2 separate regions of the Homo sapiens genome follow, and region 1 is linked to region 2. Evidence: fine-mapped expression QTL. A gene starts in region 2. The other region holds a variant in brackets. All regions are shown on one strand. Distances are from middle to middle.

Region 1 (4,382 bases), 65 kb before region 2:
AGGGCCACTAGAGGGCTCCTTGGTCTAGCGGTAACGCCAGTGCCTGGGAAGACACCCACTGCTTAGCAGACCAGGAAAGGGAGTCTCGTTTCCCCAGGGGAGTTAGAGAAGACTCTGCTCCACCACCTCTTGTGGAAGGCCTGACATCAGTCAAGCCCGCCCGCAGCCATCCGGAGGCCTAAACGTCTCCCTGTGATGCTGTGCTTCAGCGGTCACGCTCCTGGTCCACTTTCGTGTTCCGCCCTGTACACCTGGCTGTGCCTTCTAGATAGCAGTAGCAGAATTAGTGAAAGTATTAAAGTCTTTGATCTCTCCGAGAAATACATAGAAGAAATAATGACATAAGCTGTCCCCATTCTCTCTCCGCCTCGGCTACCAAATAGGGAAGGGCCCCCTGTCCGGTGGACACGTGACTCACATGACCTTACGTATCGCTGGAGACGACTCACACTTCTTACCTGCCCCCTTGCCTTGTATCGAATGAATAACAGTGCAGCCAGGCATTCGGGGCCACTACCGGTCTCCATGCCTTGGTGGTAGTGGTCCCCTGGGCCCAGCTGTCTTTTCTTCCATCTCTTTGTCTTGTGTCTTTATTTCTACGATCTCTCATCTCTGCACATGAAGAGAAAAACACACAGGCACAGTAGGGCTGGACCCTATAGTCTTGAACTCCTGACCTCGTAATCCGCCCGTGTTGGCCTCCCAAAGTGCTGGGATTACACGGGTGAGCCACCGCGTCTGGCCCAACTTTGTTCTTTTTCAACATTGTTTTGGATCGCTTAGGGAAGTATTAACATCTTAACAATGCTGTCTTCCTACTCGCGAACGAGGGGTCCTTTGCACTTATTCAGGTTTTCTTTAATTTCTTTCAGCAATGTGTTGTAGTTTTCAGTGTGCAAGTATTTCACCTCCTTGGTTAAATTTATTTCTTGGCATTTTACTTTTTAGATGTTGTTATAAATAGAATCGTTTTCTTCATTTCCTTTTTGGACTGTTCGTTGCAGGTGCACAGAAATGCAACTGATTTTCTTGTTGATACTACGCCCTGCAACTTTACTGAATTTGTTTACTAACTCTAGTAGCTTTCTTGTGTATTCTTTGGTATTTTCTATATGTAGGATCATGTTATCTGTGAATAGAGATAGTTCTACTTCCTTCTTTTCCATTTGAATGCCTCTTATTTCTTTTTCTCATGTAATTGCCCCTGGGCAGGACTTTCAGTACAATATTTAATAGCAGTGGTGAAGCAGGCATCTTGTTCTTTTTTTTTTTTTTTTTTTTTTTTGAAACAGAATCTACCTCTGTCACCCAGGCTGGAGTGCAGTGGCTCAGTCTCGGCTCACTGCAACCTCAGCTTCCTGGATTCAAGTGATTCTCCTACCTCAGCCTCCCGAGTAGCTGGGATTAAAAGCATGTGGAAAAAACACGCAGCTGGGGCCAGCGCGGTGGCTCACGCCTGTAATCCCAACACTTTGGGAGGCTGAGGCGGGTGGATCACCCAGTCAGGAGTTCAAAACCAGCCTGGCCAACATAGTGAAACCCCGACTCTACTAAAAATACAAAAATTAGCCGAGCATGGTGGCGGGCGCCTGTAGTCCCAGCTACTTGGGAGTCTGAGGCAGGAGAACTGCTTGAACCCAGGAGGCAGAGGTTGCAGTGAGCTGAGATTGCACCACTGCACTCCAGACTGGGCAACAGAGCGAGACACCGTCTCAAAAAAAAAAAAAAAAAAAAAAAACCACGCAGCTGGCTAGGTCACAGAGCGGTCAAGGAACCCTACGTTTCTGTCAGGACAAGAGAAACGGCAAGTGGAACTGGGGGACCATACTGTGTTTTTGGGGGTCAGATGGGTAAGGCGCTGACTTTGTAAGAAGGTTTGAGAAAAGCACATCTCACATGAGTGTGAAACCAAATCATCACACTGAGGAACTACAAAAAATCAGTGTTTACAGACGTTAATTTCCACCTGAGCACAACCTGGCTCCATCCCATACATTCTGGTAGTTTCTGCTCTCGT[C/T]TTCATTCATCTCTAAGTATTTTCTACCTCCCCTTGTAGTTCTTCTTTGACCCATTGGTTAAGAGTATGTTGTTTAATTGCCACAGATTTGCAAATTTTCCAGCTTTTCCTGTTACTCGTTTCTTTCTTTTTTTTTTTTTTTTTGAGACAGCGTTTCGCTTTTGTTGCCCAGGCTGGAGTGCAGTGAGGCGATCTCAGCTCACTGCAACCTCTGCCTCCTGAATTCAAGCGATTCTCCTGCCTCAGCCTCCCGAGTAGCTGGGATTACAGGCACGCATCACCATGCCTGGCTAATTTTTGTATTTTTAGTAGAAAGGAGGTTTCACTATGTTGGCCAGGCTGGTCTTGAACTCATGACCTCAGGTGATCTGCCCGCCTCAGCCTCCCAAAGTGCTGGGGTTTACAGGCGTGAGTCACCACACCTGGCCTCCTGTTACTCATTTCTAATGTCATTCCATTGTGGCTGAAAAACATACTTTGATGGATGGACACACTAACTCACACCTACAATCCCAGTGCTTTGGGAGCCCCAGGTGGGAGGCTCATTTGAGGAAAGGAGTTCAGGACCCACCTGGGCAACATAGTGAGATCCCATCTCTACAAATTAAAATTAGCCAGGTGTGGTGGTGTGCACCTGTAGTCCTAGCTATTTGGGAGGCTGAGATGGGAGGATCACTTGAGCCCAGGAGTTCAAGGCTACAGTGAGCTATGGATCATGTAACTGCACTCCGGCCTAGGAGGCAGACAGACACACACACATGTGCACCCACGTGTGTGTATATACATACTGTATTATTTCAACCTTTGAGGCTGGGCATGGTGGCTCATGCCTGCAATCCCAGCACTTTGGGAGGCCGAGGTGGGCAGATCACCTGAAGTCAGGACCAGCCTAACCAACATGGCGAAACCCCGTCTCTACTAAAAATACAAAAATTAGGCCAGGTGCTGTGGCTCATGCTTGTAATCCCAGCACTTTGGGAGGCCAAAGCGGGTGGATCACGAGGTCAGGAGTTTGAGACCAGCCTGGCCAACACAGTGAAAACCCGACTCTACTAAAAATACAAAAATTAGCCAGGCGTGGTGGTGGGCGCCTATAATCCTAGCTACTTGGGAGGTTGAGAAAGGAGAATAGCTTGAACCCAGGAGGTGGAGGTTGCAGTGAGCCGAGATCGCGCCACTGCACTCCAGCCTGGATGACAGAACTAGATTCTGTCTCAAAAAAAATTAAAAAATAAAAAAATTAGGCTGGGCGCGGTGGCTCACACTTGTAATCCCAGCACTTTGGGAGGCCGAGGCGGGTGGATCACGAGGTCAGGAGATCGAGACCATGGTGAAACCCCATCTCTACTAAAAATATAAAAAATTAGCCGTGGTGGCCGGCGCCTGTAATCCCAGGTACTCGGAGAGGCTGAGGCAGGAGAATGGTGTGAACCCGGGAGGCGGAGCTTGCAGTGAGCTGAGATCGCGCCACTGCACTCCAGCCTGGGTGACAGAGCGAGACTCCGTCTCAAAAAAAATTAATTAATTAAAAAAAAAATTAGCCAGGCATGGTGGAACATGCCTGTAATCCCAGGTACTCGGGAGGCTGAGGCAGGAGAATCGCTTGAACCTGGGAGGCGGAGGTTGCAGTGAGTCGAGATCACGCCATTGCACTCTAGCCTGGACAATAAGAGTGAAACTCTGTCTTAAAAAAAAAAAAAAAAAAACTTTGAAAATGAAAATATAGGCCAGGCGCAGTGGCTCATGCCTGTAATCCCAGTACTTTGGGAGTTTGAGATAGGTAGATCACCTGAGGTTGGGAGTTCGAGACCAGCCTGGTCAACATGGTGAAACGCCATCTCTATTAAAACTACAAACATTAGCTGGGCATGGTGGCACATGCCTATAGTCCCAGCTACTCTGGAGGCTGAGGCATGAGAATCACTTGAACCCAGCAGGTGGAGGTTGCAGTGAGCCGAGATAGCACTACTGCGCTCCAGCCTGGGTGACAAAGTAAGACTCTGTCTCAAAAAGAAAAAAAAAAAAAGAAAATATCTTAAGGCCAGGTGCGGTGGCTCATGCTTGTAATCCCAGGACTTTGGGAGGCTGAGGCAGGCAGATCACCTGAGGTCAGGAGTTTGAGACCAGCCTGGCCTAGATGGTGAAACCCCGTCTCTACTAAAAATACAAAAATTAGCCAGGCATGGTGGCGGGAGCCTATAATCCCAGCTACTCAGGAGGCTGAGGCAGGAGAATCACTTCAACCCAGGAGGTGGAGGTTGCGGTGAGCCGAGATCGTGCCACTGCACTCTAGCCAGGGCAACAAAGAAAGCAAAAAAAAAAAAAAAAAAAAAAAAATATATATATATATATATATTAAAACTTC
Region 2 (4,382 bases):
AGAGGAGGATGAGAAAAGTTGCCGTGTAACTTTTGCAGGGATGAGCCCAACAGAAGCCCTTCACGGTCTCCCTGACCCCTGCCAGCAAAAGGAGCACTCCTTTAGTCCACCTTTAGTCCACCTAAGACCTCTCAAGTAGCTGCATGGCTACACCCCCGTTCAATGTGACAAAACCACCACAAATGGCCAAGGGTATGACAATTGCTAGAGAACTACAACAGGACCTGTCTCTCACAACAAACCCCTCTCCTCTCCAAACTAACAAGAGACTGCTTGCCCTCACAGTGACCTGATCTTCCTGGAGAGAAGCAGCAGCAAGCTTCTGTTCACAATTACAGGGCAAGGAATGTCGACGAGGGTGAGAATCATTCCTCCCCAGGATCGACAAAAGGCACAGTGGAATTCTGCAGAGTCCAGGAAGTTTGGAGTTGCTAAGAAATTTGCTGCTGCAGACACAAGCCACATAGGGCCTTACCAGGGTCAAGGCATGAATCTGTGGGACTGAAGGTGAGTGACAGAAGAGAGACACCTGTGTCCAGGACACGCTGCACAGGAATCCCTGGGACTCTCTCTCTGTCATGTTCCTGGTTATCAGGACGGCTCACCAGCTTTCTGCTGAGGCCAGCTGGACCCAGGGGAGCAGCGGGGAACCAGAAGGAGCAAGGGCATGGCCATCGGGACAGACTACTCACAAGACCTGGCTGAGCTGATGGAACTGCTCCAGAGCCTGGCGACACCAGCACTGTTGCTTGTCACTGCTGCACCCTGCACACAGCGGGCTCTGCAGGAGCCGGTAGTACCGGCGACGGGCATACCGGCTGTCCAGCTCCCCTTCCAGTTCCGGGTCTGTGCCCCCTTCCCCCTTCCTCTTACTCTGCATATAGACTCTCAAGAAGCACCCATACAGACGCTGGATCATCTCTTGGAAGGTTCTGGGGGTGCTAAAGAACAAGACTCCGCGCAACATAGTGTGGACTTCTTCTCGCAGCCCCTGAGCACCAGTGCCCATCAGCAAGCCCAGGCGAGTCCATTTCTCCAGCAGCTCTAGGCTACGCAGGTAGGGATCCAGGCGGCTCTCCAGCAGGCCAAAAGCGTCAAGGAGTAGCAAAAGGCACTGGGGCTCATCCGCAGAGTTCTCGCATTGGGAGATGGCATTCCAGAACTCAGGGGAGATGTTGGCCTGCAGATCGTTCTGCAGCACCTCCACGAACCACTCCTCCAGGACCGAGTGTAGCCCGTGGCCCCTCAGAACCTCCACCGCCGCCCGGAGCTCCTCTTCCTTTGGCGGGACTGCACCGCTGGTCCGGGAAGACACCTGGGGTGCAGAAAACCGTGAGGCGAGGGGAACACAACATAGAGGTGGGGAGAGGCGGGGAAGGGAAGAAGCTGAGGGGGAGGCTGCAAAAACTCCGCTGCCCCCTGTCCGTGCTGCCCGGACGTTGGGCCGAAGCTATGGAAGGGCTGTCAGCGGAGCTGAACGAAACGAAACGGAAAGGTGGTGGAAAATGGCAGGACAGGACAGAGGCGGATGATGGACAGAGCCGTATGAACCCGAGGGTAGCGGCCCCAAAGCGCGTACGGTCCCGGAAACTCCGCGCGGGGCCGCCCCTCTCTTCCCAGGCCTCACCAGCCCCAGCGCAGCCGGCGGCACCAGGCCGGTGCTCACGGTGTTCCAGGCCACTAACAACTCCTGTCCGGGCCGGGAGTCGCTGTCCCCCTCCGCCACCACAACTGCCGCCGCCATCTGCACCCACCGACTCCGAGATTCGCTCGGCGCGGCGCGCGGCGATGACGCACGTCTGCACGCGCAGCCATGACGCGCACAAGGCGCTCAGCGATGACGCGCTAGTTCGGCGCGCCGTGGGGGAGTCGTGCGCAGGCGCGGACAGCGCTGCTTCCGCGGCGGTTGGGGTGGTGGGGCCCCGGGCGGCGTTGACCATGACCCAGCAGGGCGCGGCGCTGCAGAACTACAACAACGAGCTGGTCAAGTGTGAGCGGCGCAGCCGGGACGGGGAGGTCGGGAGGGCCGCAGGGCCGGGTTCCCGGCTCGCAGCGGGGTGCCCCTGGACCCGCCTCGCTGCGGGCATCGCGCGGCTGAGCAGAGCCCTCCGTGCCGGAGGCCGGGTGTCCGTGGCCCGAGCCCTCGCTGGCTCGCAGGCCCCGCGCCGGGCGCTCGGGGGTGGTGCCTGACTCTGGCTTCCTCGGGTGGAAGGAGGCCCGCCCTCCGCCGCCGCGCTCCTGCCCTGGGCCCACAGCGCCGCCCCTCCCGGCCCCCAGGCATAGAGGAGCTGTGCCAGAAGCGGGAGGAGCTGTGCCGGCAGATCCAGGAGGAGGAGGACGAGAAGCAGCGGCTGCAGAATGAGGTGAGGCAGCTGACAGAGAAGCTGGCCCGCGTCAACGAGAACCTGGCACGCAAGATTGCCTCTCGCAACGAGTTCGACCGGACCATCGCGGAGACGGAGGCCGCCTACCTCAAGGTGGAGCTCGGGAGGCCAGGCCGAGCATCAGGGGATAGGCACGGCAGGGGTGTTGCCACGGCAAGGCGTCAGGACCGGCTGGGGCTCCCGGCTGTGGGCAGTCTGTGCCTCGCTGGCATTTCGGGCAGGGGCAGCGTGGCCAGGCCCATTGAGGAACCCAGGCTGCTGTGGGAGTGACTGTGGGGCTGTCTGTGGGGCCTGGGGCATCCTGGGTCCTGGTCTTTATCCGGTTCTCGCTAGCCATGTGGTTATTTCTGCTCAGTGTGAAGAGCCAGGTCTTGGGCAGAGCACCCAGCACGGGCCAGTGCTAACCCAGCCTGGCTTTGAGGGTGGAGAGGAAGTGTTTTGGGTCAGATTCCGGAGGGAAGAGGGCCCTGCCACCCCGTCTGCCAGTCCCCTTGGGCTTCCGCCTTCCCCCACACAGGATCCCTTGGCTACAGCACCCCCAGCCAGGTCCCAGCACCTGAGTGTGAGGACAGCTGGGGCTTAGGACCTTACCAACAGGTGAACATTAACAACCTTCTCACTTCTCTGGCCCCAGATCCTGGAGAGCTCCCAGACTTTGCTCAGCGTTCTCAAGAGGGAAGCTGGGAACCTGACCAAGGCTACAGCCCCAGACCAGAAAAGTAGCGGCGGCAGGGACAGCTGACCAGACCACGGGCAGGGCCTGCCTCCGTGTGCCCCTCAGCTCAGCCCCAGCAAGTGTGTGCTCAGAGCATCTTTGTTCTTCACGGCAGCAGCTACCTTCCCTCACTGTCTCAGGTGCCGAGAGGGGCAGGTGCCAGCCTCCACTGGCATCAGTGACAAGCCCAGGGCACAGCCCACCCGGGGGTCCTCGCTTCATGCTCACACAGGCTATGGGGATGGTGGGCTCCAGGTCAGCTCTGCAAGGGGCTTGTCTCTGTGGCACCCACACTCCTGCCCTGCCAGGGAGGCTCTGGTTGTCTGAGCACCATGGGGGCCCCCTCACCTTGTCCCTCCTCAGCCAGCAGAGGCCCAGGGCAAGGGACAGGAGGACAGGGGTTCTCCTTCACCACAGAACCCAAACCTCAGGTCTCACCCCTGTGGCCTGTGATTATGAATAAAGATTATCTTTGTAAAGATCCGTGCCAGCCTGCTGCTTGCCCGTATCAACAGCATGGGGCTGCCAGACACCTGCAGAGCCAGAGCCTGAGGCTCCCCCTTGGGAGAGGAGGGAGGAGGGTCTGGAGTGGCCTCCCTGTGACTGCCCCACTAGCCTCAGGGACACCGCTGAGGGTGCCCACCCTCCCCAGGCCAGCCCCACCCTGAGCCCTCCCCAGCAGGGCCGCCGGTCCTCTTCCCCTGACTGGCCCACGGCTCACCCTCCTCTCAGGAGCTCTGCTTGCTCGTCCTGTTCTCTGCCACACCCTGGTGGCCAGCATAGGACCCAGCCCAGAGAGACAGCTGGGGATGCCAAGCATATCCAGCAGCTGCCTCAGATTCAGGTCCCTCTCAGCAAGGACTGGGGGGAGTTCACACCCCCCACCCCCGTCGGTTCCTCAGTTGCAAGTTTTGCTTGGCCTGATGACACCACTGCTGCCACCAGGCCCTGCTGCCCACCTTTCCCTGGCCGCACACCAAGCACTGGCCACTTCCATCCTTCCATGTGCCCTGGGGCCTCTGTTTTGTCCCTGCAGCAACCAAGCATGGCCCGAGGACTGGGCCGATTTGGGAGGCATGTGTTGATCCAGAGGGTCCAGAAAAGAGCTGGGCCTAACCCGACCAGGGAAATACACCAAACTCTCCTTCCGCCGGAGTTTGGCCAGACAGCATCTCTTTATCTCTTTGCTCTTAGGTTTGATCCTCCAGGGAGGAAATGGTGCTTGGGTTCCATGGGCTGTAAACAGCCCCAGCTCTGGCCGTCTGAGGCAGGCGCTGCTCCCG

What was found. PIP is the estimated chance that this variant, and not a neighbour inherited with it, causes the effect.
Region 1: its variant is the best candidate, but not a certain one, in a credible set for the expression of ANAPC2 in whole blood (TOPMed, PIP 0.54).

Annotation. Positions count from the first base shown.
Region 1 is chr9:137,121,669-137,126,050 of GRCh38, forward strand. It overlaps LOC124902353 (small nucleolar RNA U13), which reads right to left and starts at 1,940; the gene lies at 1,841-1,940. The variant C/T (reference allele first, on the strand shown) is at 2,018.
Region 2 is chr9:137,186,789-137,191,170 of GRCh38, forward strand. It overlaps ANAPC2 (anaphase promoting complex subunit 2), which reads right to left and starts at 1,772. Exons shown (of 13, transcript NM_013366.4): 1 at 1,628-1,772; 2 at 693-1,315. The coding sequence starts at 1,744. It overlaps SSNA1 (SS nuclear autoantigen 1), which reads left to right and starts at 1,888. Exons shown (of 3, transcript NM_003731.3): 1 at 1,888-1,990; 2 at 2,278-2,477; 3 at 3,019-3,578. The coding sequence starts at 1,939. The coding sequence ends at 3,126. RefSeq lists an enhancer at 1,680-1,899 and a silencer at 1,930-2,279.